Regions from separate parts of the Homo sapiens genome. Here regions 1, 2, 3 and 5 are each reported to be linked to region 4. The links are microRNA targets in miRTarBase. Many come from high-throughput screens and were not tested one by one. Region 4 holds a microRNA gene; each other region holds the end of a gene's coding sequence.

Evidence for each region. The annotated mature microRNA hsa-miR-588 reads UUGGCCACAAUGGGUUAGAAC and lies in region 4 at 2,223-2,243, shown strand. An mRNA with a match to its seed (bases 2 to 7 or 8) in the 3' UTR can be bound and repressed. Matches are read on the target gene's strand: a 7mer-m8 pairs with bases 2 to 8, a 7mer-A1 pairs with bases 2 to 7 and ends in A, and an 8mer does both.
Region 1: miRTarBase lists ZFP69B as a target of hsa-miR-588. The part of its 3' UTR that is shown has no 7-base or 8-base seed match.
Region 2: miRTarBase lists U2AF2 as a target of hsa-miR-588. Seed matches in the 3' UTR shown: 7mer-A1 at 4,348-4,354.
Region 3: miRTarBase lists RPP14 as a target of hsa-miR-588. Seed matches in the 3' UTR shown: 7mer-A1 at 1,941-1,947 and 7mer-A1 at 2,283-2,289.
Region 5: the mRNA of PEX26 is a reported target of hsa-miR-588. Seed matches in the 3' UTR shown: 7mer-m8 at 4,099-4,105, 7mer-m8 at 3,651-3,657, 7mer-A1 at 3,627-3,633, 7mer-A1 at 3,160-3,166 and 7mer-A1 at 773-779.

Annotation. Positions count from the first base shown.
Region 1 is chr1:40,462,796-40,467,898 of GRCh38, reverse strand. ZFP69B (ZFP69 zinc finger protein B) reads right to left here. Exons shown (of 5, transcript NM_023070.3): 5 at 4,184-5,103. The coding sequence ends at 4,310. Among named protein-coding and RNA genes, the nearest start is that of ZFP69, 12 kb to the left of the region's middle.
Region 2 is chr19:55,673,711-55,678,813 of GRCh38, reverse strand. U2AF2 (U2 small nuclear RNA auxiliary factor 2) reads right to left here. Exons shown (of 12, transcript NM_007279.3): 12 at 4,098-4,880. The coding sequence ends at 4,746. EPN1 (epsin 1) reads right to left here and starts at 3,588. Exons shown (of 11, transcript NM_001130072.2): 1 at 3,379-3,588; 2 at 1-287. The coding sequence starts at 186. RefSeq lists an enhancer at 486-895 and silencers at 817-1,111, 3,307-3,636, 3,807-4,026.
Region 3 is chr3:58,316,526-58,321,628 of GRCh38, forward strand. RPP14 (ribonuclease P/MRP subunit p14) reads left to right here. Exons shown (of 6, transcript NM_007042.6): 4 at 1-66; 5 at 390-468; 6 at 915-3,668. The coding sequence ends at 971. It overlaps HTD2 (hydroxyacyl-thioester dehydratase type 2), which reads left to right. Exons shown (of 5, transcript NM_001348712.2): 3 at 1-66; 4 at 390-468; 5 at 915-3,668. The coding sequence starts at 1,089. The coding sequence ends at 1,595. Among named protein-coding and RNA genes, the nearest start is that of HTD2, 13 kb to the left of the region's middle.
Region 4 is chr6:126,482,424-126,487,526 of GRCh38, forward strand. It overlaps MIR588 (microRNA 588), which reads left to right and starts at 2,208; the gene lies at 2,208-2,290. It also overlaps a transcript of CENPW not described here.
Region 5 is chr22:18,087,117-18,092,219 of GRCh38, reverse strand. It overlaps PEX26 (peroxisomal biogenesis factor 26), which reads right to left. Exons shown (of 5, transcript NM_001127649.3): 5 at 1-4,248. The coding sequence ends at 4,145. Among named protein-coding and RNA genes, the nearest start is that of PEX26, 12 kb to the right of the region's middle. RefSeq lists enhancers at 238-447, 468-527.

The DNA.
Region 1 (5,103 bases), not on the chromosome of region 4:
TACATTAGTCCCCATTTCAGCCATATTTTTACCCCAGTCTCTACTGTCTGGTGTCCCTGATTCTAGAACAACTCTGGAATCAAGGACACCAAAGTCAATCCACAAATCACTAACATGACATGAAATTTTTACTGGCACATAGTGAAGTGAGAAAAGTAAGGACAAATTTGGGAATTTGTCATAAAGCTGATATAATATACAGGGCTGCTCCTGGCCGGACATGGTGGCTCATGTCTGTAATCCCAGCACATTGGGAGACCGGTCCTTCACCAGAGAATAAACCTCTAGTCTCCTTTGGGATGAGGAAAGGGTAATGGGATGAAGAAAGGCATGAGGGAGGAATGTGTGCGTAACAGCCAGCTGTATGGGTAGGTGAGGGGGTCTAAGGATCTGACATTAGAATTTCAATGAATCCCCATTTTCAGCCCTCTTTCTTCCATAATGCCCACTGTCTCCAAGGCCTCTGTCTTCCCAGGAACATCCTTGTGCCAGTATACTTTTCTGCAGGCTCTGCTAAGTCAGTCACCACTCTTCTATTTTCTCACCACCAAAAACTTGACATCTCATGTCTGCTTCTATATTCTCCTCTATTGTCTTTTATACCCTCCAGTTTGCTTATGCACTCAGGTTCATGAAATAAAGATAAACTCATGTTGTTAATCAGCCACATTTAAATGCATTTTAAACAAATTAGGCTGGGCACAGTGGCTCATGCTTGTAATTCCAGCACTTTTGGAGGCTGAGGCAGGTGATTGCCTGAGCTCAGGAGTTTGAGACCAGCCTGGGAAACATGGCAAAACCCCGTCCTACAAAAAATACAAAAATTAGCCAGGTGTGGTGGTATGTGCCTGTAGTCTCAGCTACTCAGGGGGTTGAGGTGGGAGGATCGCTTGAGCCCAGAAAGTTGAGGCCGCAGTGAGCCATGATCATGACGCTGCACTCCAGCCTGAGCAACATAGTGAGACTTTGTCTCAACAAACAAACAAAAACAACCAAACCAAATTAACACAGAAATACCCTTTTATCTTAAAGTATATCAGCTATGATTCTCAAAGGTATACGATTCTCAAATATTGGTCCACTTGCACAGAAAAGAAAAAGGAAACAAAAAATATTTCCTCACATATAAAATGTAGGTAGGAAAGTATATGGATTACATTTCTTTACTTGCATCATGGATACATAGTTCAATTCAGTTCAAATCAAAACCATTCAATACATATTTACTGAGTCCCTTCTGCGTGTCAGGCACTGTTTTAGGCACTTGTGATATATCAGTGAAAAAAACAAAGGCCCCTGCCCACATGGAGCTTACATTATAGCCAGGGGAAACAACAGTAAACAATAAACACAAATATGTGAAGTATCTAGGGTGATAGGTGATATGAAAAACATAGAGCAGGTGAAAGGGGTATGGGATTTCTCGATCTGGAAGGTAGACAGCTGCAGTATTAAATAGTATGGACAGGATAGGCTTCAGTAAGAAGGCAACAATTGAGCAAAGATGAGAAGGTAAGGGTATAGGGCATCTGCAACAGCTAGTGAAACGGCCCAAAGGTTAGAACAAGGCTGGAGTTCGGGAGAGGTCTGGGCTGGAGATGTGAATCTGGCAGCTGTTAAACAGAGACGGTATTTTAAGCCAAAGACTGTATGAGATCACTGAGGCAGGAACTACAGAGAAAAGTCATAGTCATGTCTTTCAGGGAAATAAGCAATTGGAGAAATTCAAATTCTTGGGAAATCTAAGACCATAGAAACATGGTAGAACAATTTTAAGAAACAGTGTATACCTCACTCTTTTTCTGCCCATCAGTCATACAGGACTTAAGAGTTAGAGGCCAGCTTTTTTTTTAAGTAAATGTAGTAATATGAAAAATTCTAGAGATACTGGTATATATTCTGGATTTATAGCTTTACTTTAGATAATTCACACTTATAATACTCACGTGATTGAAACTGTTCTATCTCCATATAAAACAAAGAAGTTGAACTTGACTTACTTCCAATTATGTCTGTAAGGATGGAGTATCTATTTCATTAAGTACAGTGAAGCATTAGGAGCCAATTCCTCTGCTTTCTCTCCGTATTTCCCTGCCTGAGTATGGCTCCTTCAGTCACCTTTCTCTGGTCCTCTTTGGTGGGCCTCTTGATGTGTTGTTCTAGGGGCTATCTTAAGAGACACTTCCACTTGATACAAAGCATATTTCAAATCTAATGTTGTATGCTTGGCAAAGGAAAAGGTAAATAAAGTTATCTGAAAGGTTTCTCCCCAGAATGAAGTCTCAATATATCTCTCTTCAAAAAGGCATCATTATGTTTTAAGGAATTGTGGTTAATTTTTGTAGGTATAATAATGGCATTGTGGTTATGTTTTCAAAGAGTGCTCGTTTTTTAGAGATACATCTCAAAATATTTATGGATTAACCATAATAAAAAACCGATCATTATAGAGGGAAGTCTGCATAAATATCTCCAAAAATAATTCCTAGGCTCCAAGACAGCATTACAAATGTAGCGTTTAAAGAATTATTGCAACAAAAATACTAAAGGAATTGCTAAGGAAATAATTTATGGCATATACACACACTAATCTGATACTAAATGATAGTCTGTTGTCATTTCTAATCATTTTACATACTCTATGGGGGGAGGAGTGAAAAATGACAGCCCTTGAGCCAAACGAAACCTAACAGCTGTTTTTTAAATGCAGTTTATGGGAACCACTATTGCACACATTCATCAGTGGGTCTCAACCAGGGACAATTTTGGCCTCTAGGTACACCTGGCCATGTCTGGAGACATTTTTGACTGTCACAACTGGGGGAGGGGCAGCTATCAGCATTGAATGCTGGCATCTTGTGGGTAGAAGCCAAGGATTCCCCTAAACATCCCAGGATGCACTGGGCAGCTTCCTATAGCAAAGTATTATCCGGTCCAAAATATTGGTAGTGCCAAGGTTCAGATACTGTAGTTTATATATTGTCTCTGGCTGTTTTGTACTAAAATGGGGAAGTTGAATAGGTGTGACAGGGACCACATGGCCCACAACACCTAACGTATTTACTATCTGGCCCTTTACAGAAAGTTTGCCAATTCTTGCTCTATATAAAACCATAAAATATAAATAAGCATCTCGTGTACAGTAAGTTATCTATCAATGCTAGAAAACTCCCTTTAACATTTTTTCTTCTAGAAATGAGAAGCAACATTTTAATTTCTACCTCTTCTAGCCATATAAAGGGCTAGAGTAAAAGGCTGTACTATATTTTATTCTGATTTATTAAAGGGATACTTAAAAGAGTGTTTCTCAAAAGTTAATCCACAGATCACTAACACGCCATGAAATTTCACTGGCACATAGTGAACTGGGAAAAGTAAAGATAAATGTGGGAGTCTGTCATAAAGCTGACGTAATATAACAGGCTGTTCCTGGCCAGACACGGTGGCTCATGTCTGTAATCGCAGCATACTGGGAGACTGAGGTGGGAGAACTGCTTGGAGCCAGGAGTTTGAGACCAGTCCAGCAACATAGTGAGACTGTCTCTACAATAATAATAATGATAATAATAATAATAATAATAATAATAATAATAAATTAGCCAGACATGGTGGTGCACATCTGTAGGCCCAGCTACTTGGGAAGCTGAGGCAGGAAGACTGCTTGAGCCCAGGAGTTTGAGGCTGCAGTGAACTATGACATCACTGCACTCCAGCCTGGGCAAGAGTGAAACTGTTTTTTAAAAAAGGGTCTGGGTCGGGGGTGGGGGAGGGGCAGGCACGGTGGCTCACACCTGTAATCCCAGCACTTTGGGAGGCCGAGATGGGCGGATCACCTGAATGGTTCGAGACCAGCCTGGCCACCATGGTGAAACCCTGTCTCTACTAAAAATACAAAAATTAGCTGGGTGTGGTGGCAGGCACCTGTAATCCCAGTTACTCAGGAGGCTAAGGCAGGAGAATTGCTTGAGCCTGGGAGGTGGAGGTTGCTGTGAGCTGAGATCACGCCACTGCACTCCAGCTCAGGTGACAGAGCGACTCCATCTCAAAAAACAAAAAAAAAAAAAAATGGAGGGGGGAACTGTTCCTACATTTAAAAATATTAAAATGTCCTTTCTTTTCTGAAACAATGCTGATAATAGGTGTTGTGTTTTTAATATGGCAAAATTAAGAGTTGGGAACATTGTGCCAAACCATTTTTTTTTAATGTTCGTTTTTGGAAATCCAAAAACAAATGGATTTTTGAGGGATCAGGGAACCACTGATTTAGAATCTTGTGCTCCAACATAGATTCTTTGATGTTTAGTATATTTCACACAACATTGCTGAAGGTATTTCTTAAATGTGTTTTGCAGTGTCTAATAAGGGATGAACTACAGCTGAAGGCTTTTCCACACTCATTACAATCATAAGGTTTTTCTCCAGTATGAATTCTCTGATGTTTAGCAAAGGATGAATCATGCCTAAAGGCTTTCCCACAATGACTGCATTCATAAGGTTTTACTCCAGTATGGACTCTCTGATGGATAGAAAGATGTATTCTCTGGCTAAAGGCTTTCCCACATTCCTTACATTTATATGGTCTTTCTCCAGTATGAGTTCTCTGGTGTTGAGTTAGGTATGTACTATGGCTGAAGGTTTTACTACATACATTACAAATATAGGGTTTCACACCAGTATGAATAATCTCATGTTGCCTAAGGTGTCTAATCTGGAAAAACGCTTTTCCACAGTCTTTGCATGTAAAAGGTTTCTCTCTAACATGAGTTCTCAAATGCTGGATCAGTCCAATGCTCTGGCTGAAGGCTTTCTCACATACCCTACATTCATAGGGCTTTTCCCCGGTATGAATTCTAACATGTTGAGTAAGCGATGAAGGATGTCTGAAGGTTTTCCCACACTCCTTACATTCATAGGGTTTCTCACCAGTATGAATTCTCTGATGCGGAATAAGAGATGAACTTTGGCTAAAGGCTTTTCCACATTCCTTACATCTGAAAGGTTTCTCCCCGGTATGAATTCTCATGTGTTCAGTAAGGTGAATAAGCTGTTTGAAGATTTTTTCACAAATATTACACTCAAAGGTTTTCATTTTTGTATAACTCC
Region 2 (5,103 bases), not on the chromosome of region 4:
CTTCCAGATCATGCTCATGATCTCCGAGAAGGCGACAACGTTGTAGGTGAGGTCGGCAATCTCTGACATGAGGGAGCTGGATGGGCCCCAGGGGTCATTGCTCGTGGCCTCTCGAACCTTGATCTCCGCCTCTGAGTAGTTGTGGACGATGTTCTTCATCTGGCGCCTCAAGGACGAGGTCGACATGGTGCCCGGCTGCAGCAGCAAGGGGCACAGGGCCCCGATGCGTGGAGAGATGGGGCGACTCCCGGACGAAGGCTGCGGCAGGTGCTGGCAGGTCACCGCATCTGCGAGGGGAAGAGGACCTCTGGAAACACAAATGGGACATGGCCTGCCCAGAGCCCTCAGGGTCAAAGATGAGTTCCTAACTGTGGCCCAGAAGGCTCTGTCCCTTGTTAACCTCTAGGTCTCAAAGTAACCCCATCCATGTTTCAGTTCCTCAAACAGGCTGCCTCCTTCCTGCTGGGGCCCCTGCTCAGTGAGGCAGAGTATATGCAGTGGCAGATCGCAGCCCCACAACCTGGCTCAGCACTTCCTGGCAAGGCCACCCTGGGCGGGCTGGATCTTTTGCACCTCAGCTTTCTCTTCTGTCAAATGGGGCTCCATGCGGTCATCTAGAGAACTGACGCCCTGTAAACACCGGCAGCGCATCAGGAGGCCCTCCGTCCTGCCCATGCGCTCTTCCTTCTTCCTCATCCAGGGATATCCACTCACCCCAAGGGCTCTGCTTACACTTCCCAGGTGCACACCCAAACATCACAGTCACCTATCCCTGGGGCCTCATCAGTAAACTCAGTCTCCCTCATGATTTTATATTCTCGTCTGATTCTGTAGCTAAGGTCAACCCACAGGCCCCATGGGGGCAGAGAACATGTCTGTCTGCATGTGGCTTTTCCCAGCAAAGAAGCTGGCCCAGAAAAACCATTCAGTAAACCATGCAAGGAGGAAGTGGAGAGGGAGGGCAGGAAAGACCTCTGGAACAAGGGCAGAGGGGGCAGGAATCCACAGCAGAAACAAGGACACATGGGAAAGAAGGCTGATGAAGGGATTAAAGACAGAGGCAGGAGCAGGGAACCAACCCAGGGCGGCAGGAAGAACCGGGGAAGCCAGAAGACCAGACGTCCCAAGGATAGCGGAAGCCCAAGGCTCAGGAGAGATAAGGAACCTAACAGCCCCACTGCCTGGGTCCCTGCTGTGTGCCAGGTGCTCGCTCAGCACAAGAGGGACATTACCTTTTTCAACACTGCATGCAAAGACTGGGCTCCTGGAAGTTAAATAATTCAACCAAGGTCACACACCAGGAATGGCAGGGCAGACTCAACCCGAGGCCCACCTGAACTCCAAAACTCATACTTTTAAATTAACCTAAATTAAATTAACCCATCCCGAGACTGGTGACGAGAAACAAGAGAGTCAAGCAAATGATGATGACACCAGCAGACACTCGCACTGCTCTTATCCCATGCCAGGCACTGTTTTAAGTGCTTTACATGTATTAACTCAGTTAATCCTTGAAACAACCCCATGATTCATAGCCACCTCACAGGGTGGAAACTGAGACACAGAGGTTCAGCCCCTTGCCCAGGGACACACACCTTACTCCTGGAGCAGCCTGGTTCCAGAGCCAGCTCTGATCACCCATCTATGCGGCTCCAAGAAGCCACAGAGGGAGATTTTCAAAGCCCCGCCATGATGTAAGCCCAGGGGAGATAGGGATGACGGAGAGAGGCTGGCCTCTGCTTCCACCTCAGGCCAGAAAGCCAGGCACCTGAAGACAGATGTAGCTAGTTAAAAAGTAACTCTCTGGAGTCCCAAAACAGCCCCAGCCTAATACATTAAGATGAAGAGATGATGTAACAAATGCAGAGAAGGGGACTGAGAAGAAATAGAAGACAGTTCTGACAGAAAGAGACACATAGAAACCTGGGCAGAGGGAGCTAGGCAGAGACACAATGAGAAAAACACAGGCAGCAGCAGATACAAGAACATGGGAAGACAGGGAGGCAGGAGGCCAAGGAAGAAAGAGGCCCAGAAACAAAAAGAGACCTGGCGCTGAGAAATAAGAGATAAGAAAAATGGAATCTAATGGCAAAGAATATAAAATGTGGGTTCAAATCCTGGCCACATCAGCTACCTGCAGCGCACACCTCCTTGAGACACAGTTTGCTCAACTCTGAAATGAAAGAATTCCTACCTGGTAGGCCTGTTGATTAAATAAGATGGGTACATGCAGTGCTTGGCTCTGTGCCCCACAGATAGTAGGCGCTCAATAACACTGGCTGCTATTATTATCAGAGAAAAAACAGAGAACATTTCCAAAAGGGTGGCGGCAGAAAAGGCACTATCTTAATACTCTGTACTTATTTGGCGTGCATTAGAAAAAATTACCCAACTAGCACATCAAAGCTGAGATTTCTCAGATACTGCTTAGAATGAGACTGTATTTCAAATTAAATTGATTCAAAGAGAATTCTTACATTAAAAAGAATACAAAGGATATGGCAAAGTTCTCCAAGGAGTACTCCAATAACCGACCGATATCTAACACTTACTGTGTAAAAATCTCTAAGCACTGTAATAATAAAAACCAGAGCTCCCAGTAATTACACACTTGCTATGTGTCAGATACCGTCAGGCACTTTACAAGCATCACCTCAACTTACATGCACAAGGACCCTATGATGTAGGAACTACGAATGCCTACGAACTATGGATTTCCTACGACTAGGAAACTGAGGTTTTGACACAGAGACTATCACCTGGCAATTACACAGCTTAGCAGGCAGCCGGGCTTCTGAATCCAAGGCTGGGGCTCTTCACCATCACACCAGAGACTCAGAAAACTGGGGAAAAGGGGCAGATTCTAGATCAAGTTAACAGACTCCTGGAAAGAAACTTCAGGATTGGAGGTGATAGGTATGGGGGCAAAACTCAGATGCGAAGACGGGGCGGGGGTAAGATTTGCACCATAGGCAGAAAAGCCCGCAGGGAAGGGCTAGAGACACCTAGGGAAAAGAAGACTCGGAAACTCAACGAGACACGAACAAATCCTGACAGACACAGACACGACAGACAGAGGAGAGAGAGACCCGGGACAGACACACAAACACACTCCTATCTCCAAACCCTTTTCTAAGTTCACTGAAACAGGCACAGGCAGAGGCCCACAGGAAACAGACGCTGACAGACACACAGACACGAGAGAGACAGACACAGACAACCGACACGGGGGCAGTCAAGGCCGACACAGGAGCAGAGACACAAAGGCCGCCAGAGACACCCAGAACTGGCCAGACGCGAGCCCGCGCGCGCCGCGGCCCAGGCCCGAACACCCGGAGCAGGCGGGCCAGCGTCCCCCGCGCTCCGCCCCGCGCTCACCTCGGCCCCCTCACGCCGGGCTCTGGGGGGTCATGGCGGTCAGCCCCCTGCCCCGCTCGGCCTCGGTGTCGCGGGACGTGCGCCGGGCCACGGGCGCACGCACGAACGCAAGGAGGGCCGCACGCCGACGGCTCCGCCGCCCCGCCGCCCAGAAGGGGCGCGGAGAGCCGGGCGGGGGAGGGGAGCCGCCGAGGAGACGGGAAGCAACAGAAGGAGGCGACGGACCGGAAGCGGAAATTGCCGCGCTCCCCGCCCTCCCGTGCCGCACCCCGCCCTGGCAGGAGTCGCTTCCGCAGCCAAGCCAACCTGGAAGGCATCACTTCCGGCGCGCTGGGCCCCGTTGCTAGGCGCCTCTACGTCACTTCCGCCCGCTGCAGCGGGGGATCCGCGCGGTGCTCACGGAACGCCGAGAGTCAGCTCCAGCTCGCTTGGCGGCAACCGCGGAGCTCCTGGCACACCCACGCCACGCCCGCCCCGGCCCGCTCGGCCACCATCCCTCCTGTCGGCGGGGTGGGAGAGCACTCGGGAACCTCACGTCCCCCGGGGCTGTGCCTGTGCCGACCCCGAGAAGGGCACCGCGCAAGCAGGGAAGGCCTCGAGGCTGCCGGCGCCGGCAGCAGGGGCGTCCCAGCCAGGGGCCCGCAGTTTGCCAAGGGAACCCCCACCCGAGCCCAGAACCGAGGAAGAGGGTCGGACATACTGGACACACAGCCGCTCCATAAAGTAAAATACAACAAAATGTTTAATGAGCAAATTCGTCTTAGCAAATATGAAACTGCCACAGAGAGTAGGAGAGGGGCAGGGGCCACGGGGCTGGGCGCAGGTCGGGGGAGACTAAAGAGGAAAAATCAACTACGTAAGAAACCCAGGAGGGGACCAGAGAGGACCAGAGGCCGAAGGAACAGAGCTGTGGTCCTGGTAAGGGAGAGGGCAGGGCACTGAGGGCCGGACAACAAAATTCAAAATAGTTTGGCCATAAAATATAAACACGCTATGTTCCTACCGTGGGGAAGGGGAGAAGAAAGGGGTCTATGGGAGAAGGAGAGGCTGTTTTGGGAGGGGCTGGGGTCCTACCCCGCCCTGCTGTGCACCCTGTCCCCATCCCAACCCCTTCCCTCTGTGTCTGTGTGGGTGCGTGTTGTCTGTGTGGGCTGTGTGCGCACTTCCCCAGTCCCCTCCCTGCCCTAACCCCCCAACCCCCCAACCCCCGCCCCCCACCCTTAATTGCTGCCATTCCAGTTGCTGCCGGCTGTCGTGTGTCTGCGGCTGTCACTCCTCTGCCCATCGTCTTCAGAGGGGGATAAGGGGGGGGCGGGAGTGGGGAGAAGCCCCCAGCCAGCCCTGCCCCCACCCTCCCCCAGCCGCCTCTACCAGAAGTCCCGGCGGTGATAAGAGTCGGGGTCACAGTATTTTGTGACAACCACTCTGTTGGCGAACTTGCGGCCCGTCAGGCCCTGCATGGCTTTCTGGCAGTCAAACACAGAGGTGAACTCCACAAAGATCTGTGGGGAAAGGAGAGGCAGGTTTGTGAACAAGGCTCACGCCCAACAGCCAGTCAGCGTCCACCCAACCCCAGCACTGAAGGCAGGAAGGGACAGGGAGGAGGGGGCTTCGCCACAGGTGTCAGAAAGGGACCCTTAGTAAGCAGGTTTGGTGGAGTTCACCCAAATATTCTCCAGGATCAAAAAACAAGAGCATAAACACACCATAGGCATGGAGAGGGAG
Region 3 (5,103 bases), not on the chromosome of region 4:
CTTACCTTTGGACATCCTAACCTATGAAGAGAAGACCTTGTCAGCCATCTTGAGAATATGTAGCAGGTATGACAGAGAGTGGGAAATTTCTAGTATAACAGGGCAGAGAGACCGATGGAGCAAAAATGCTCTCTTCTGAGAATGAGAATAAATTTTTTGTTGTGAACTCTGAGCAGCTTTTGGGAATTTAAACTGGGATGAATATGAACATTCATCCACCAGAAACTTGTACTCTAGAGAGGGCAAAACTTACGATTTGGTTACAGCTGTAGTTTTCCCATTGATGGTTATAGTTGCAAAGTCAGAAGTGAATATTTTAGAAACCTTAGTTGAAGTTCATTTTGTTCTCTGTCTATGACACACTATGTATTTTCTTGATCTTTCTGCAGTGGTCTTGTCAAATTGTGGAGCTCTTTGACCCTGTTAGGATCCTATAAAGGCAAAAAATGTGCTTTCCGGGTGATTCAGGTAAAGACTATTCCCTCACATATTCCAAACAAGACTGAGTGATGGGTCAACTGCTTCTTAATATACACAACTCATTTTTGTGCTTGCATAAATGTAATATGGTTAAAATGATCTAAGTAGGGGAAAATAAAGGACTTGATTGTTTCCAAAAATGTGAGACAGAGCACTTAGATTTTAAAATCTATGGGAGATGTTTTGGGATAAAACTTGCAACCCTGTGGTTAAGGCTTACTTTTTTTATTTAACACTTAATGCCTTGTGTGTTATATATTGGTACGCTCTTTTTGAGATGTGACCACTTGTTATCGAAGGCTTCCTCTCAGGATGCTCTGTAAAATGCTCCTGCATCAGCTTTGTTTATCCTGTAAAACTGGGCATGTTTCCCCATTGCCCTGTGCTTCAGTGTGGTTTCTCCCAATGCCTTAACCTTTTTCTTTCTCTTCTAGGTTTCTCCATTTCTTCTTGCATTATCTGGTAATAGTAGGGAACTAGTATTGGATTGAATGAATAGTCTTCCATTTTGGAAACGTTCATCCACTCTCATATTTATTTTTTGGTGCCTGCATGTTTGAAGACTGAAGCAGGCTAAAAGCTCTTGATGAAATTTGAGGGTGCTGAAGATGTTCCCACTAATTTCCAGCCATCACCTTTGGTGGGGTGGGCTTCGGAGGACAGTCTGTCTGAACCTGCCAGTGCTGACCCTGCAGCACTTTCAGCATATGCACATCAAAGTTGGAGACCGCGCTGAACTTAGGAGGGCCTTCACACAGACTGATGTGGCTACCTTCTCAGAATTAACAGGGGATGTCAATCCTTTGCATTTGAATGAAGACTTTGCAAAACACACCAAGTTTGGAAATACAATTGTACATGGAGTTTTGATCAACGGACTTATCTCAGCTCTCCTAGGAACTAAAATGCCAGGGCCAGGCTGTGTATTTCTTTCCCAGGAAATTAGCTTTCCAGCCCCTTTATATATTGGAGAAGTTGTTTTAGCTTCTGCAGAAGTGAAAAAGCTGAAGCGGTTCATTGCTATTATTGCAGTGTCATGTTCTGTAATAGAAAGTAAAAAGACTGTTATGGAAGGCTGGGTTAAAGTTATGGTTCCAGAAGCTTCCAAATCCTGAAATAGATGTTTTAAAGATGCAACCTCAAACACCAATGCTGTTGTTAAAGAGCCTATGGGGAATTGCTGCTCTTTACCAAAGAATGGTTGATAGGCCCAGAAGCCCATCTTAGTTAGGGGAAGGGAGCAGGAAGAGGGTTGTTCAAATGCCCACTTTCCAGTTTGGCCTTATGCTTCATGCAGACTTGAGTGTATGCAGGATTTCATTATCTGCCTGGGTTTTTTGTTTGTTTTTTGTTTTTTAATTCAAGAAGTAGGCTGGGCCCGGTGGCTCATGCCTGTAATCCTGGCACTTTGGGAGGCTGCGGCAGGCGGATCACTTGAGGTCAGGAGTCCAAGACCAGCCTGGCCAACATGGTGAAACCCCATCTCTACCAAAAAAAAAAAAAAAAAAAAAGTGCAACTAGCTGTGCTTGGTGACTTGGCCCTGTAGTCCCAGTTGCTTGGGAGGCTGAGGTGGGAGAATTGCTTGGGCCTGAGAGCTGGAGGTTATGGTGAGAAACTGAGATTGCACCACTGCACTGTAGCCTGAGTGACAGAGCGAGACCCTGTCTCAAGAAAGAAGTATTGGGAAGGTTATTTAAAGACTCTACTTTTAAATCAGGCGTGGCAGCTCACGCCTGTAATCCCAGCATTTTGGGAGGCTGAGGCAGGCGAATCACTTGAGGTCAGGAGTTCAAGACCAGCCTGGCCAACATGTGAAACCCCATCTCTACTAAAAATACAAAAACTAACCGGGCATGGTGGCGGGCACCTGTAATCCCAGCTACTTGGGAGGCTGAGGCAGGAGAATCTCTTGAACCTGGGAGGTTGCAGTGAGCTGAAATCACACCACTGCACTTCAGCCTGGGTGACAGAGCAAAACTCCACCTCAAAAAAAAAAAAAAGATTCTACTTTTAGAAATTCAGACCTAGATAGATTTGCATTTGGATAACAAATCCCTACCTATAGCCATGTGGAAGCAGCTTGTCACTGTATTTTAACTGTGTAACAATTATTGAAGGCGAAAATAGAAGTTGGGTCATCTTTGAACACCTACCTTTTATCAATGAATATTTTTAGACTGTTCTTCAGTATCTGAGTCAGAGTTTATTGTAATTTGTTATTTACACCAAGGTGGCATCTTAGTCTACCTTCAGTGAGACTTGCGTTTCAGGGGAGGGGCGTATGTGCATCCTCGGTCTCAGTTATGTAAACGGTCTGATCTGTAAAATAGTGGTAGCACATGCCATGTGGGATAGTTGGTGGAGATGATAGATGGAGTTAAGCACAGGGCCCAGCCTGTCAGCAGTAGCTACTATTATTGTTGCCCATTTCCCCTGCAACTGAGGTGAGAGGTTTTCCTGAGTTTGAAGCTGACTGGCCCACAGTTAAACGTAACAGACCAGTTTTTCAGGGTGTCAGCCAACCTCTATTAGTGTTCTTAAGTACAGTTTCTGTTATAAAAGTTCAGATTATTCCTTGAAAATTTGGATCTACCTCCCATTATTATGAGTAATACATGCTTATAGTAAAAAAAAAAAAATTGTAAGAAATAAATATTAAGAAGATTATGGAGGCCAAATTCTTAAGACTTTGGGGGCTGGGGTCAGGGAGGTTATATTGAAGGGGAGATGTGCCTAACATGTTACTACTAAATGGCCATCCCAACACAGCCAACACTTTTGTTTCCCATTTTTTTTTGTTTCCCGTTTTTTAATAAAATTGAGATATAATTCACATACCATAAAATTCACCTTTTAAAAGTGTACAGTTTAGTGGTTTTCAGAATATCCACAAAGTTGTACAACCATCACCAAATCAATTTTTTATAGCATTTTTCATCACCCCCAAAAGAACCTCCCATTAGCAGTCAATCCATTTCTCTCCTCCAGTCTTTGGGAATCACCAGTCTACTTTCTGTCTCTATGGGTTTCCCTGTTCTGGACATTTCATAAAAGTTCATACAATGTATGATCCTTTGGAACTGGCTTCTTTGATATAGCATGTTTTCAGGGTTCATCCATGTTACAGCATGTATCAGTACATCATTTTATTTTATGGCTGAATAATATTCCATTGTATTTACCCATACATCAGTTGATATTTGGATTATTTTCGCTTTTGGGCTGTTAAAAATAATGTTATGAACATTATAGAAGAGGTTTTTATGTGCACAGGTTTTAAATATATATATATATATATATTTTCTTTTTTTCTTTTTTGAGATGGAGTCTTGCTCTGTCGCCCAGGCTGGAGTGCAGTGGTGCGATCCCAGCTCACTGCAAGCTCCTCCTCCTGGGTTCAGGCCATTCTCCTGCCTCAGCCTCCCAAGTAGCTGGGACTACAGGCGCCTGCAACCACGCCCGGCTAATTTTTTGTATTTTTAATAGAGACGGGGTTTCACCGTGTTAACCGGGATGGTCTCGATCTCCTGACCTCGTGATCTGCCTGCCTCGGCCTCCCAAAGTGCTGGGATTACAGGCGTTAGCCATTGCGCCTGGCCGACAGGTTTTAAATTCTAGGAGTGGAATTGCTGGATCATGTAACTTTAATATTATAAAGAATTGTCAAATTGTTGTTCAAATTACTATTGGGCATGAGGTGGTATCTCATTGTAGTTATGATTTCCATTTCTCTAATGTCAGCCAACACATTCAAGACAATCTATGACAGAATTTTTAATTTTTACCCAGAGAGCAGCTGAACAGACAACTAGAAAGAATTATTCTAGGCCAGGCGTGGTGGCTCATGCCTGTAATTCTCAGCACTTTGGGAGGCCAAGGCAGGCGGATCACGAGGTCGAGGTCAAGAGATTGAGACCATCCTGGCCATCATGATGAAACCCCATCTCTACTAAGAATACAAAAAAATTAACTGGGTGTGGTGGTGCGTGCCTGTAATCCCAGCTACTCGGAGGCTGAGGCAGGAAGATTGCTTGAACTGGGAGGTGGAGGTTGCATTGAGCTGAGATCGTGCCCCTGCACTCTAGCCTGGGCAACAGAGCGAGACTCCGTCTCAAAAAAAAAAAAAATTATTCTAGTCGCTAGAGGGCAGTGTTGTGTATAAAGTTAGTACTTTAAAACTTTAATACTGTATTATACCATATACTAGTTTTCTAAGGTGGAAGACAAGACCAAAATCAATGTGGGGAGCAAGGATACTGTTCTTGTGAGTTTCAGAATGTGCAGCATGTGCAGGCTGAGATCCACTTGAAGAAGACATTTATAGGTGAATCACTAGACATGCTGAAAATGTGTTCAAATGGCAAAACAAAATGGGGAACATGCACAAATATACGGACTTGAGGCCAGGACTGCTTGCTCCTGCAGAACTCATTCCCTGGGATTTAGCAGCAGTCTTAAAGTTAGGTCCATAACTGGATTGGGATGTGATCATTGATACTGATAGCCACCATTTTTTCAATGCCTGATGAGTTGATTTTCTACATTAATGCTAATCCTTGAAACAACTGTGTGAAGTTAACATTATCCTGTTTTTAAGTAGGATAACTGACTTGCCCAAGGTT
Region 4 (5,103 bases):
AAGAAAGAGGCACCCATCATGACAATAATGTTCTATATTTTCCTATGAAAGTCTTGTTTTATATTTCACATTTAGGTTTTGATGGTCCTTAAATATAAGATTTTTATACATGATATTATGTATGGATTTAGGTTAATTTATTTTTATATGGATAGCCAATTGACCCAGAACCACTTATCAAAAAGACATCCTTTATACATTGAATTGCAATAGTGTTTTATCAAAACCAGCTAAGTATTTTTGAGTGAGTGTATTTCTGAACTCTCTAATTTGTTTCATTTGTTTACCTTTTGTTGTATTATTTCCTCACCATCTTAATTATTTTTAGCCTTATAAAAGCTTTGATATTTGGTAGTATAAGTTTTCCTGTTTAGTTTTTCTTCTGTAATATTTTCTTGACTATATAAAGTCCTTGCATTTCTATGTACATTTTAGAATAAAACTGTCAATTTGCACAAAATAACAGGCTGGGATTTGGATAGAGATTATGTTGATTTGAGGGAGATTGGCATTTTATCAATATTGTGTCTTTCAGTCAATATACAGAGTATATCTATTTAGTTATTTTGATATTAATTTTTCTCACCAATGTTTTATGGTCCTTAAGGAAAAAGCCTTGCAATGTTTCTATATATGTGATCCTAGGTAGTGGACCCTTTTAGATGTTATTATAAATGATTTTGCTTTTTAATTAAATTTCATTTTTCAGTTATTTCTAGTATAAAGAAATGGAGGTGACTGATTATTGGAAACATTTATTTGTAAATTTTCTTATTTTTAATTTTTTTGTAGATTCTTGTAAATTTTCTGCAGAAAATTTATATTTTTTTCTGGCTTTATTGAACTGCTTTGAAACTCCAGTGAAATGTTGAATAAAAGTGCTGATAATTGATATTATTTCCTTATCCTTGTTCAATTGCATTAAAACTTTACCATTAACTATATATTTTTAGTAGACCTCTTTATCAGATTAGGAAAATACACTCCTGTTCCTAACTTACTGAATTAAACAAATCATGAACAAGTGTAGAATCTTATTAAGAGCTTTTTTATTGAATATACTAAAATCATCAAATGGGTTTTCTCTTTTATTAACAGATGTAAAATTTTACTAAATGCTTTTTTCCACATTCCTTTGAAATATTCATAAAGTTTTTCTATTTTTTCTAATTTGATGAATTACACTGATTGATTTTTAAAATATTAAACCAAACTTCCAATCCTGGCAAAAACTCCAATTAGTTTTATATAAAACCTATGATTTTTAAATACACTACTAGGTGGAATTTGATAATATTTTGGGTAGGATTTTTCCATCTAGATTAATGAAATATATTGGGCTATACTTTTCCAGTCCTACATTGTTATTGTAAGGTTTGGGCATCAGGGTTATGCTGGCCTCGTAAATTAAGAAATTTTTCCCTCTGTTTTCTGTTTTCTGGATAATTTTTTGTTAGAATGTATTTTTTTCTCTTCATTACATGTTTGAAAGAATTTTCCAGAGATGTCATCTAGGTCTAAAGATTTCTTTGTAAGAAAAGCTTAAAATTACATGTTTTTAGTAGATATTGGAGTGTTCATATTTTTTATTTTTGTGAATTATTACTTGTGGTTTTTCAAGTAATTTGTCCTTTTTTTCCAAATTACCAGCATCAAAGTGTTAGTAATGTCCTTTATTTTCTTCTAAATTCTGTAGGACCTGTAGTTATATATAATGTTAATATATTAATATATCACAATAATATTTTTAAAGTTTTTGCTTTTGTTATTTTTTTTGTGTGCCTATTTTCTAGTGAATTGACTTTTGGGGCTATATTGATTATCTGTTTTTCATCTACTTTCTTTGTACTTGCTCTTCTGCCACTAGCTTTTTGAAATGAAAGATTAGATCAATAATTATCAATATTCTTTCTTGCCCAAAATATTTACTTCAATTCTTATTACATCTTCTTGCTTGTAACTGGGACCCTTTTCTTTTTAGCTGAAAGACCTAGTTTTTATTTCCTTAGCACAGGTCTGTGGTGAAGAATTTTCTCAGCCATTGTTTTCAAAGATATCTTTATTGTACCTTCATTTAAAAACAATTTTTAGGGGAGAAGATGGAGCAAGATGGCTAAATAGAAGTCTCTGCTGGTCGTCCCCTCCACAGGAACACCAAATTGAACAACTATTTAAATAAAAAAGCACCTTCATGAGAACCGAAAATCAGCTTAGGTACCAATTTGGCCACAATGGGTTAGAACACTATTCCATTGTGTTCTTACCCACCATGGCCAAAATTGGGCCTAAGGGGTCCCAATTCCCGGCCTCAGCTCTTGGATGGAATTTCTAGACCTGCCCTGGGCCAGCGGAGAGCCCACTGCCTTAAAAGGAGAGTACCAGCCTGGCAGCATTCACCACAAGCTGACTGGAGTGTCCTTGGGCCTTAGGTGAACATCAGCAGTAACCAGAAAGTACTTGCTGCAAGCCTGGGCTGGTGGTGGCCAAGGGGAGAGACTCTTCTATTTGTGGAAGAAATAGGCAAGAGTGGGAAAGACTTTCTCTTGTGGCTTGGGTGCCAGATCAGCTGCAATAGAATAGAGCACCAGGTAGATTCCTAAGGTTTCTGAGTTCAGGCCCTGGATCCCAGCTGGCATCTCTGGACCCACCCAGGGCTGGGGGAGCTCACTGCCCTGAGGGAAAGGACAAATGCCTGGCTGGCTTTACCATCTGCTGATTGTAGAGCTCTAGGGCCTTGAGTACACACAGATGGTAACTAGGCAGTGGTTACCATGAGCTTTGGGTGAGACCCAGTGCTGTGCTGGCTTCAGATCTGACCCATTGCAGCCCCAGTGATGGTGGCCACAAAGAGGCTTGTGTCACCCCCTCCCCCAGCACCAGGTAGCTCAGCACAGAGAGAGAGAGAGAGACTCTGTTTGAGAGAAAGCGAGGGAAGAAAACAAGAGTCTCTGCTTGGGAATCCAGAGAATTCTTTTGGATTTTAACCAAGACTACCAAGGTAGTACCTCTACAAGTCTGCAAGAGCCACAGGAAAAGCCCTGCCTAATGCAGATATGGCTGCAGTGACCAAAAACTTAGATAACAACACCCAACACTCTTTGAATGCTTGGAAACCTTTCCCAAGAAGGATAGATGCAAAGAAGCCCAAACTGTGAAGAGTACAATAAATACCTAAGTCTTCAATGCCCAGTCACCAATAAACATCCACAAGCATAGAGATCATCCAGGAAAACATGAACTCACCAAATGAACCAAATAAGGCACCAAGGAGAAATCCTGGAGAAACAGCAATATGAGGACTTTTCAGACAGAAAATTCAAAATAGCTGTTTTGAGAAAACTCAAAGAAATTTGGGTAACACAGAGAAGCAATTCAGAATCTTATCAGATAAGTTTAACAAAGAGATTGAAATAATTAAAAATAAGTAAGCAGAAATTGTGGAGTTGAAAAATGCCATAGACATACTGAAGAAATCATCAGAGTATCTAATAGCAGAATTGATCCAGCAGAAGAAAGAATGAGTGAGCCTGAAGACAGACTACATGAAAATGCACAGAGGATCCAAAAGAAAAAATAATAAAAAAAATGAAGCATGCCTACAGGATCTAGAAAACAGCCTGTAAAAGGCGAATCTAAGAGTTACTGGCCTTAATAGGGCAGATAGAAATAGTGGTAGGGATAGAAAATTTATTCAAAGGAATAATAACAGAGAAACCTAAACAAAGATACCAATATTCAAGGAAATCAATCATGCCCCTATTTCCCCTACCCCCAGCCTCTGTAACTACCATTTTCTACTCTCTTCTATGAGTTTAGTTATTTTAAATTCCACATGTAATTGAAGTTATGGAGCATGAAGCAGATTTAGCCCAAATAAGAAAACTTCAAGATATTTAATAAACTCCAATGGTCAAAGATAAGGAAAGTATCATAAAAGCAACAAGAGAAAATAAACAAATAACATACAATGGAGGTCTAGTATGTGTGGCAGCAGACTTTTCAATGAAAACCTTACAGGCCAGGAGACAATGGCATGACATATTTAAAGTGCTTAAGGAAAAAAATAAACTTTATTCTGGAATAGTATAACTAGCGAAAATATCCTTAAAACATGAAGGAGAAATAAAGAATTTCTCAGACAAAAGATATCATCTCACTTCAGTTAAAATGGCTTATATCTGAAAGACAGGCAGTAATAAATACAGGTAAGGATGTGGAGAAAAGGAAACCCTTGTATACTGTTGGCGAGAGTGTAAATTAGTACAACCTCTATGGAGAACAGTTTAGAAGTGCCTCCAAAAACCAAAAATACAGCTATCATATGATCCATCAGTCCCACTACTGGGTATATACTCAAAAGGAAGGAAATCCATATATCAAAAAGATATTTGCACTTTCATGTTTATTGCAACATTATTCATAATAGCAAAGATTGGGAGCAACCTAAATGTCCACCAACTAATGAATAGATAAAGAAAATGTGGCAGATATACACAATGGGGTACTATTCAGCCACAAAAAAGAATTATATCCTGTCATTTGCAACAACATGGATGGGACTGGATGTCAGTATGTCAAGTGAAATGAGCCAGACACAGAAAGACAAACTTCACATGTTCTTACTTATTTGTGGGAGCTTAAAATTAAAACAAGTGAATTCATGGAGATGGAAGTCTGGTTGAAAGTATGGTTATCAGAGGCTGGGAAGGGTAGTTCAAAGGTGAGGGGTGGGGGAATGTGGGAATGGTTAATGGGCATGAAAATATAGTTAGATGCAATGGATAAGATCTATTGTTTAATAGCACAACAAAATGACTACAGTCAACAATAATTTACTGTATATCTGAAAACAACTCAAAAAGTATAATTGGATTTTTTTTGTAACACAAAGAAACAAAAAATGCTTGAGGTAATGGGTACCTCATATACCCTGATGTGATTATTATGCATTATATGCCTGTATCAGAATATATCATGTACCCCATAAATTTATATACCAACTGGGTACCCACAAAAATAAAAAAATAAAAAATATAATTTTTGTTTTATTGTAAATCGTTATTTTATTATTGTATATGTTTATGGGGTACAAAATGTTTTTAT
Region 5 (5,103 bases), not on the chromosome of region 4:
CTTGACTAGGCCAGAGAGTAAATCAGTAGAATTCCCACAGGCCCCATCTGTGGATGTGAGGCCAAAGTCCATCGGCCCCACGGCTTTTCCGTGCTGGGAGGGAGGAAAGCAGAGGACGGCACAGGGAGGCTGGGAGGGAGGAAGGAAAGCAGACGACGGCACAGGGAGGTGCCCTACTCGCGGTTCATGTCATCACTTTCGCTTTCTGACAGTTCCTTGGGCTGCTTTAAGTGGATAGCAGAGGCCACCTTCTAGATGTAGAAAGAAACTGAACGTCCAGAGTGTGAACTGGCCTGCTTGTATCTCCCCTCGGCGGCAGTGGTGGTTGCCAGCCTGGCTTGCGTTTGCCCAAAAGTAATAGTAAAGAGCTCTGACCACTGCTGCTCACCCTAAACTTGGGGCTGCTGTACTTGTAGGCTTTGGAAAGCATGGAGGGGTTTCCACATATTAAAAAGGAAAAGGGCACCAGGTCTGTGCTCTGTGACCCCATCACGCAACGGAATGACACACAGCTATGAAGAATGAGGCTGCTCCACATATGCTGGGACTGAGAAAGGTTTTTGTGTTTTGTTTCGTTTCTGAGACCAAGTTTCACTCTTTGTTGCCCAGGTGGGAGTGCAATGGCGCGATCTCAGCTCACTGCAACCCTTGCCTCCCGGGTTCAAGTGATTCTCCTGCCTCAGCCTCCTGAGTAGCTGGGATTACAGGTACCCACCACCATGCCCGGCTCATTTTTTTTTTGTATTTTTAGTAGAGATGGGGTTTCACCATGTTGGCCATGCTGATCTCGAACTCCTGACTTCAGGTGATTCACCCACCTTGGCCTCCCAAAGTGCTGGGATTACAGGCATGCGCCACCGCGCCCAGCCGAGAATTGTTTTTTTTCTTTTTAAACGTGGCACAGTGTGTGTAGTGTATGTGACTACTATCATTTGTGTAAGAGAAAGAAAAGTTTACTATCAGAGACTGTATCTGGAGGGATAAACAGACTGGCAAGGGTTGCCTCTGGGCAAGAAACTGGGGAATAGAGAGCGGGAGTAGAAAGACTGTATTAGCTGGGTGTGGCAGCACACACTGTAGGCCCAGCTACTCCAGAGGCTGAGGGGAAGACTTGCTCAAGCCCAGGAGTTCAGGTCCAGCCTGGGCAACACAGCAAGACTAAAAAAAAACAACTTTCTTTTCCAAGAATACCCTTTTTGTAACTTTTGAATTCCGTATTTTTTAATGGTCTATGGTCTACAAACACTCATGTGCAAACACATACACGCAGAATAGGGATCACCTGCACGAAGCTATGAACTATTTCCTCATCCCTTCTAGCCCCTTCCTAGAGGCGAACCCTCCGCCCCCACCCCCAGGCACTATCTGTCCTGCTTGCACCCACCTCCACCCAGGGCTGGCCAACAATAGCCTGTTTCCTCTCCATTCCACCCCTCTCCCCCACCCTCCCATCCCACCACAGAAGAGGATTACTGGTTCCTGCTTTCCTTAGCGCCCCTAAATTTAAAGGTATCTGTTCTATGTTGCATGCTTCAGAACCCTGTAGAAACAACCAGCAAATCCACTGTTGATACGCAATTACCCCTCTTGGATGCATCTGCAACAAGCACTCCCCAGCTTCGAAGGGGCAGCAAAGAAGTTCACAATTACAAGACCATGGGGTCACGACCACAGAAGCGATATGAAACAGGTCCCGGGACACAGGGAGGGGCAGAAAGAATTCTTTGAGTAAGCCTGGAAGGTGGAGGGGCTCACCAGGCCAAGAGCAGGTGCTAGGCCTTCAGTAGGAACAGTGCGAGCCAAGGCACAGAGGCCAAGGGGAGCGAGCTGTAGCTGTGATGGTGGGCAGCTGGAAGGCCGCACATATAATCAACAGGGGACCCACATCAAAGGGGAGATCTTAGCCAAAACCAGCACATAGGGGCCTTCAATTCCATGAAGAATTTAGATGTTATCCAGTGAGCCATGGGAAGCCATTGAAGCGTTTTATCTAGGGTAGTTAAGTGGGCCCAGATTTTCATTTTAAGAAATCATTCTATAGAAGGAATCTCAAACCTCACCTGACTGCTTTTCTCCCCCCAGGGTTCTAAGCTTTACTTAAAAGCCCATATAAAAAAGTATAGATTTGCTTCCTACAGACTTGAACCATGCCCTAAGGATTTAATTCTAAGGGGCCTGTGAAGTTTACCTACTTTACTCATTTTTCTAAAGAAAAGTTGGCCGGGCGCGATGGCTCACACCTGTAATCCCAGCACTTTGGGAGGCCTAGGTGGGTGGATCACAAGTTCAGGAGATCGAGACCATCCCGGCTAACACAGTGAAACCCAGACTCTACTAAAAATACAAAAATATTAGCCAGGCGAGGTGGTGGGCACCTGTAGTCCCAGCTACTCGGGAGGCTGAGGCAGGAGAATGGCATGAACCCGGGAGGCGGAGCTTGCAGTGAGCTGAGATCACGCCACTGCACTCCAGCCTGGGTGACAGAGACTCCATCTCAAAAACAAACAAACAAACAAACAAACAAAACAAAAGAAAACTTGTTGCCTTGCAACCCCCGAAAATGTACCAAGGAAAAGCTAGCAAGCACCTTCTCTATTTTGGGCATCAACACCAAGGACACAGTGCAGGGCAGCCTGCTTGGCCTCTGGGTAGAGAAAGGCCAGCCCCTGCAGAAAGCCCTTCTTCATCCTGACAGCACAGCAGTGCTCTACGCTTCCTTGCACAGAAACTCATAAGATGCTTGTGGCTGGTGAGAAAACAACACTGAAACATTTCAGCTCCTCAAATGCTAAGGCCTCGGTGCCACCTCCCTAAGGTTTTATTGTTCACTGCCTTCAAAACCCATGTCTCCCGTCTGCCCCGCCCCCCACATCCCTTCCAGCTCACCTGATTACTCAGTTCCATTTTCAGCTCAGCAGCCTCTGAGGCTGGCCTACTTTTCAAGGCCACACGAGCAGAAAAATTTGGGCATTACACAAACAACAGAACATAACTAGGACAATGGGACACAGAAAGGGAAGAACCTGAAATGGTGTGTACCAAGGAGGCAAGGATACAGGCAGAACCTGGTGAAACAGCCAAGGGACAAGTTTGCAGGGCGGGAGGGAAGGGCTGGCGGGGAAAGAGTGGGCAGAGGCACTGAGCGTAACAGAGCAAGACTTGGCCAGGACAACCTGGAAAATTGAGCTGAAGACCAAGAGGCACCAGGCAAGATCACTTTACCCAGCGATAAGAGCTGTAAGGCTCACTTGGTTTTCAGTAGTCAACCCGGTGGTTCTGAAAACCACACCCCAGCCTGAACAGTGAGAAGGCTCCTGCAGCTTCAAGCGCATGGCAAGACCATGGGAACAGCCTATTGATACAGAATTAGATCAGCTCTGGGGAGCACAGTGCAGGCAAGAAGAGGCCCTCTCAGATCTACTCTAGCTAATTAAGGTACTGTCCTGTGGGGCATGTTTTTTTGTTTGTTTTGAGAGAGTGCGGTAGCACAATCTCAGCTCACTGCAACTTTTGCCTCCCTGGCTCAAGTGATTCTCCTGCCTCAGCCTCCCAAGTAGCTAGGACTATAGGCGTGCACCACATCTAGCTAATTTTTGTATTTTTAGTAGAGATGGGGTTTCACCATGTTGGCCAGGCAGGTTTTGAACTCCTGGCCACAAGTGATCCACCCACCTCACCCTTCCAAAGTGCTGGGATTACAGGCGTGAGTCACCATGCCCAGCAAAGAAGTATGTTTCTCAAGAAGTGAAAGGCCAAGGGTCACTTCACCAGGCTTTTTCTGAACTTCCAGCTCCATTAACATCCTGACCTGAAGAACCAACCCCTTGCCTTCACCAAGAAGATGGAATGTTTCATGGACACAGTCCCTGTCCCCAAACCCCTCCTTTTCAAGGGGCCTCTGGTCATCCGGGGCACTGTTCTGGAGGTGCTGTGCCTGCTGGTCCTGCTTTGTTTCCACATCATCTACCGCGACCAGCCGAAGTAGGGTGCAAAGGAGAGGGCACCCAGGCAGCAAGACACAGTGCACTCCGCGAGATTAGGCTGGTCCCATTTCCCCAGGGGCGCCTGTGGATGTGTCGCTCTGTCGCTCTGCTTCTGTGGCCACGGACGTGAGGAGCAGAGAGGCTGTGGTGCGCAGGGACCCTCAGTCACGGATGCGGAGCTGGTAGAGGCGAGAAAATGCAGCCTTCCGGATCCAGCGGAAGAGCTGGGCCAGCTTGTAGAGGAAGTGCAGGGAGGAAGGGGAAGCTGCAGGGCAGAGGGAGACTACAGTGAACGTCCCACCCCTCTCACCTGTCACTCTGCCATCTCCCACCCTGGGAGACTCCACTACCAATTACACATAGTTGGTTTTGTTTTGTTTTTTTTAGAGACAGGGTCTCGCTCTGTCACCTAGGCTAGAGTACAGTGCAGTCTGTGTTCAGCTCACTGCAGCCTCAATCTCTGGGGCTCATGCGATCCTCAGCCTGCAGGTGCAGGTTCTCCTCCCCCACCATCATCACTCCAATGAGTCGGGCCTGCTGCTGAGGGTCAGGGCCACTGGGCCAGGCCCTTCTGAAGCAGCCTTGGAAAGAGCAGGCTCAAATGTCCTCATGCCATCCCCACTAGGAGACCAGGGTTTACGAGACTAAAGGGCTTACGGGAACCATAAAGAATCATAAAGAGTTTCTAAATCTGTATCAGTCAGGAGGTGGCCAGGGATGAACGCTGATGATACTGAGCATTCCGAGCGCTAACTCGTGACTTCTTTGTAAAGCAAACAGAGTCGTCCACAGGGGATCCCTGCTCAGCATTCAGCAGACGGGTTAGAAGGACAACTCTGAGCTATGTGACGGAAACCTCGCTGGCCAGGCATGATGGCTTGTGCCTATAATCCCAGCACTGTGGGAGGCTGAGGTGAGAGGATCACTTAAGGCCAGAAGTTGGAGACCAGCCTGGCAAACATGGCGAAACCCCGTCTCTACTAAAAATACAAAATGTAGCCTGGCATGGTGGTGTGTGCCTGTAATCCCAGCTACTTGGGATACTGAGGCAGGAGAATCGCTTGAACCCAGGAGGCGGAGGTTGCAGTAAGCCGAGATCACGCCACTGCAACCTGGGCAA